Linked DNA regions of Homo sapiens. The protein of the gene in region 1 purifies or fractionates together with the protein of each later gene. This does not show direct contact. Each region holds a gene or a part of one and is shown on either strand. Other genes may lie near its edges.

Region 1 (3,500 bases):
ATAAACTAATAGCAGCACATCGTGGCAAGTAATACGACAGAGTTAAGCAAATAGAGGAAGGGGCGTTAATTCAAAGAAGGAAGGAAGTCAGGAAAGGTTCTATACTGGGCAAATTACTCAACTTCCCTGTATCCCAGTTTCCTAATTTGAAAAAGGCAGATAATAACTGAATATGCCATAGGAGTTGTTATGATGATAAAATGAATTAATATATTTAAAGTGCTCAGGACAGTGCCTGGCACAGAATGGATACTTTAGATATGCTGCAATTATGAATTCTACATGCAAACATTTTTGCAGTGTTAAAGACAGTGAGGAAAAAAAACAACCTTAAAAGAAAAAGACAGTCTTATTTGGGCTACTATGAAAACCTGGAGCTCAGGAAAAAGAGACTACAAAAAAATAACAATAAATCAGATAGTAGATAAAGCACAGATATGAAAAATTGTTCAAATTGTTAGAATATTACATAAACTTAGTTGATAAAGCAGCAGCAGCAGGGTTTGACAGAACTGACTCCAATTTTGGAAGACGTTCTACTGTGGGTAAAATGCTATCGAACAGCATCGAATACTACAGAGAAATCTTTTGTGAAAAGAAGAGTCAATCAATGGGGCAAATTTCATTCTTGTGTTTTAAGAAATTGTCACAGCCACCTTGACCTTTGGCAACCATCACTGTAATCAGTTAGCAGTCATCAACATCAAGCTAAGGCCCTCCACCAGCAAAAAGATTATAATGCACTGAAGGCTTAGATGATCATTAGCATTTTTAGCAATAAACTATATTTTTTTATTTTTTTCTTTTGAGACAGAGTCTCACTCTGTCGCCCAGGCTGGAGTGCAATGACACAATCTCGGCTCACTGCAACCTCCGCCTCCCGGGTTCAAGCGATTCTCCTGCCTCAGCCTCCCAAGTAGCTGGGATTACAGGTGTGTGCCACCACGCCCGGCTAATTTTTTTGTATTTTTAGTAGAAACGGGGTTTTACCATGTTAGCCAGGCTGGTGTCAAACTCCTGACCTCAGGTGATCCGCCCGCCTCAGCCTCCCAAAGTGCTGGGATTACAGGCGTCGTGAGCCACTGCGCCCGGCCAACAATCAACTATTTTTAAATTAAGGTATATACATTGTTTTTTAGATATAATGCTCTTGCACACTTAATAGACTACAGTATATGTATTTGTAAACATAACTTTTATATACACTGGAAAACCAAAACAATCTGTATGACTGACTTTATTGCATGATATTTCCTTTACTGCAGTGGTCTAGAACCAAACCCACAGTATCTCTGAGGCATGCCTTTATAGGGTCAGGGGAACAGAGCAGTATACTGAGAAAACTGAATTCTTATGTTTCAGACAGAAAGAATTTTCTAAGCATTGCTTAAGCTATCCATTTCTTAGTTTCCCAATGTATGTTAGCAATATTAAAGCTCCGTGAAGAGACTTTCAGTAAATAATTTTTTTTCATAGAGGCAGGGTCTTGCTACGTTTGGCCAGGTTGGTCTTAAACTCCTGGCCTCAAGTAATCTTCCCACCTTGGCCTGCCAAAGTGCTAGGATTACAGGTGTGAGCCACCTCACCCAGCCAAATTTAACTCTTTAAAAACTAGCATTCCACCACATTTGACTCAGAGTTCTCCTTTTAAGTTAACTCTATGAACATCATGAAGAACTAGTGTTCTTTCCTTGTAACTCATTTGGAGAAGTATTATACTAGACATTTCTCTCAACGATGAAGGCAATCCAATAATCATAACCCTTTGAGTAAGAGCTTTCAAGCTATTACAAATCTACCTAAAAATAATCTTTCAGGCTAAATTTCTCCCCATCTTGTCCACAAGAATACAGTGAAACTCTCATCTTACTGATACTCAGAACATTTTTGCCTGAGGAAAATAATCTGCCATCTTACCTTGATCATTCATACTATCCATTATTGTCATTAATTTCTTTAGCCTTGCCATTGACTCCTGTTCATTTCCTTTGCTCATAAAATCTGTCCCAAAACCAGGGATCATCCCCTACAACAGATTTAAACATAAAGTCAATAGTAGCTTAAGATTAATGGTTCAAAATGTCCACATTTAACTATTAGGTTTAATATTGACACTAAGTCTTAGATATATTTTTACCCGAATGTAAAAATAATTAAAGCAAGTGTATCTATTTTAGAAAATTTAATGAAAACAAAAGAAGGTATAAAGTTTTAAGGATAACTAACCAAGATCTGACTGAAGGGGCCCATTTTCATGATATTTTGAAATTGCTCATACATGTCTCGCAACGTAAACTGACCTGAAATACAATGTAAATAATTCGGATATATTAAAGTATGTACATTTCCATTCAACAAAACTAATTTATTCCTTAATCATGAATTCATCTTGAAGCATATTTATAAAATATACATCAATAAATATTCACCAAGCAGTTACCATGTGCAAGATGACAGGATGAATGCTGGGGAGAATACATAGACAAAGACAGGTCCTATCATAGAGAAGCTTACATTCTATCTGAGAAGACACATATACAAACACACAAGAAACCTGAAAACAAGGCACATAAACTACACCTACTAGGATGAGTAAAATTTTAAAGGTTGACAATATCAAAAGTTAAAGTGGATGTGGACCACAAAGAACTCCCATATATTGGTGAGAATATAGAATAGCAAGACACTTTAGAAGATTGTTTGGAGTTTCTTAAATAGCTTAGGTATCTATGAACAGGAAAATGGATACACTGTGGAAAAAATATTATTCAGCAATAAAAAGAACAAACTATAGATAAGTACAACTACATGAATTAATATCAAAATATGCTTAGTCAAAGAAAACAGATTGGAAGAAAAACGATATACTCAGAATTTCTTTATTTTTTTAAGAGGGTTGTGCTCTATCACTGAGACTGGATTGAAGTGGTACAGTCATCACACACTGGTAGCCTCAAACTCTTGAGCTCAAGTGACCGCCTGCCTCAGTCTCCAGAGTAGTTATGACTATGGATGCATGCCACTGGATTTTTCTAAGAGATATGGGTCTCACTACATTGCCCAGGCTGGTCTCAAACTCCTGACCTCAAATGATCCTCCCACCTTGGCCTCCTAAAGCACTAGGATTACAGTGTGAGCCACCATGCACAGCCCAGGACTTCTATAATATGAAGTATTACCGGGAAAGGGCACAAGCAAACCTTTTAGAGTAATGGAAATGTTCTGTTTCTTGATTGGGTGTGGGTTACTGTGCATTTGTCAAAAAAAGAAAGGTATCCTTAGGATTTGAGCATTTCATTGTATGTATACTAACCTAAGGTTTAAAAACAGGGATGGAACAAGCCAAAAGAGAAAGTATTTTCTATTTATGTCCTAAAGATAAAAAGAGAAAAGGTATTTGGTTCAGGCATTCTGAATGTGAAGTGGCAGTACAGTATCTTAAAAGAAATGTTATAGCAGTCAACTAGAAACGCAGAATTAAACAGTGGAAGAGAGGATTA
Region 2 (2,402 bases), on another chromosome or scaffold:
TCCAACTTTTCTTAGGTGGTCGAACACTGAAATGATTAAGAAAATCATAGTCAAATTACCTGTAAAGCTAAAGTTAAGACTTTGTGATTTGCTTTCCATAATTGAGTTCTACTATCTTTTTTAGGAATCTGTAACTTGCTTTTCACAAATATGAATTCTCTTTTCTGTTATTTTATAAAAACGTTATTGGAGGATGCATACATAGGAGCACATACCAAAGTTTTAAGATTTAAAGAGCAAGCTAAGTATTATACTTCTTGCTATTCTTTCTCCTTATCAAATACAATTTCTCAATCCTCATGTTAAAAATGCCTTGAAAATTTAAGAAAAGATGAACTAGACAAATATTTTGTAAATACTGGCTGTCTGCCCCTGTAAACTGCAAGCATAAATAGCATGCAAGCAAATTAGTATTTACTAGTAAATGAAACAAGTTGTACATCTTGCCTTCACATCCTACCTCCAAGAAATACTGAGTTTGGAGAATATGTAGAAAAAGGTAACAGTGGGATTATAAACTCAGCATAATTACACACCTGAACATGATTCCTTCAGAGAAAGGATCCAAGCTGTCTACAAGCTCGAGTTCGGCGTCCCCTCCCAAAGTAAGCATTTGGTAATTTTCCTTTAATTTATTTGTTATTATATAAAAACCTGCCATAAATTCATTAAGCCTTTGTTTCCGAAGATCTTCATATGCCTGTCTAAAACTGTCTCTTTCATAAGTAATTTTGTCCAATTCTGCTACCCGTTGCAAATACAATTCTTCCTGTGAAAAGATTATGATAGGGAAAATCTATTCAGATAAATTTGATATGATAATTAGCATTGTTAATTATTACTTTGTTTTGAGACGTAGTCTTGCCCTGACGCCCAGGCTGGAGTGCAATGGCGCGATCTCGGCTCACGGCAACCTCCACCTCCCAGGTTCAAGCGATTCTCCTGCCTCAGCCTCCCGAGTACCCGGGATTACAGGCACGTGCCACAACGCCTGGCTAATTTTTTGTATCTTTAATAGAGATGAGGTTTCACTATGTTGGCCCAGCTGGTCTCGAACTCCTGACCTTGTGATCCACCCGCCTTTGGCCTCCCAAAGTGCTGGGATTACAGGCGTGAGCCACCACGCCCGGCCAACAGCATTGTTAATTATACAAAACTAAAGATCAGAATTTAGGCTAAGGACTAAAAAGAACTCCAACTAGTATACATACACAGTTCATTCATACCTTCTTTTTATACTCTGCGATGGCACCGAGGTTTGGTTTCATTTCATGACACCGGGCTTCCAAAAGTGCAATTTGATTTGTTATAGAATCTGGATTCTTGATCGCTTCAAGATCCTCTGGGCTTAGAACCGAAATCTCTTCAATAGGATTATCTTCTATAGGATGCAGTGATATTTTTGAAATCTAAAAGTTCAATTTAGGGGAGAGTTAGAGAAGGCATAATATTACATACAATTCATTGTTTAAAAAAAAATATGACAAATTACACAGCTATGAAAACAACAGGAGTTGTGACTGATTTATCAATTATTTTTCAAAGGACTTCAAGAAAAATAGTTGTAACACTCAAAAGTGTCCATGTAATCTTTTCTTAAATGTCCAGATCAGCCCTAGGGTGAAAGGGTAGTTGTCTAATTCTAATCGTTACTCAGACTTTTCTGTATATAACAATTTATATTGTTATGTCCCCTATAAACCTTAGAAGTGATCACAGAATTAAAAATCACAATGTAGCTCACAAACAAAATTTAAGAACCCCAACCCCCTAAAACAATCCTCCCCAAACCCTCCTTTTTCATAAAGAATATGTTTAAAATTAAACTAAACGGTAACAATCTCACCTCTTTGTGCCAATATTTTATTTTAGAATTATGTTCAGCAATGTGACCATCTATTTGTTCAAGTTTCAACTTAATACTAAGTGCATCTTTTTGAAGAGCATGTTCATTTTCTTGAATAACTTTTAATTCTTGAAGCAGATTGCGATGTTCTTTCTGGATCTCTGGTAAGGATTCCTAAACACCGAAAAGAACTGCTAGATAGAATTTTCCAAATAGAGCCATCATTTTCACATTACAGAGATGAAGGAATTACCAATCTCTCCTCATGCCCCTTCCATTTTAAAATAATTTAAGCATTTAAATTCACAAATTATAGTATTCTTATTGTACAAATAAAAATTGATAGTTATAAAACTTTAAGTCTATGAGTGCTTACTACATTCTAGGCACTGTCATATATCCAGCTCTTTAAATTGGTTCCAGTATCATCCCATCTCCTCTTCAATACAAAGCAACTCATACCTCTGCAGCATTTGTATTCTTTACGACCTCTGCTGCTTTGTCCTCAAGACTTTTCAGCTCTGCTGTTAGGTCATCCACCTCTTTCTCAGTATCT

Evidence for each region. The genes of interacting proteins can lie anywhere in the genome.
Region 2: the proteins of SRP54 (region 1) and SMC4 fractionate together in Homo sapiens (co-fractionation; one large-scale study listed by BioGRID). This does not show direct contact.

Annotation. Positions count from the first base shown.
Region 1 is NC_000014.9:35,017,492-35,020,991, reverse strand, and holds part of SRP54 (signal recognition particle subunit SRP54), read right to left. Parts: intron 2,301-3,500; coding exon 2,227-2,300; intron 2,027-2,226; coding exon 1,918-2,026; intron 1-1,917. UniProt on the Homo sapiens protein: Component of the signal recognition particle (SRP) complex, a ribonucleoprotein complex that mediates the cotranslational targeting of secretory and membrane proteins to the endoplasmic reticulum (ER).
Region 2 is NC_000003.12:160,430,650-160,433,051, reverse strand, and holds part of SMC4 (structural maintenance of chromosomes protein 4), read right to left. Parts: coding exon 2,309-2,402; intron 2,021-2,308; coding exon 1,847-2,020; intron 1,410-1,846; coding exon 1,227-1,409; intron 770-1,226; coding exon 537-769; intron 27-536; coding exon 1-26. UniProt on the Homo sapiens protein: Central component of the condensin complex, a complex required for conversion of interphase chromatin into mitotic-like condense chromosomes.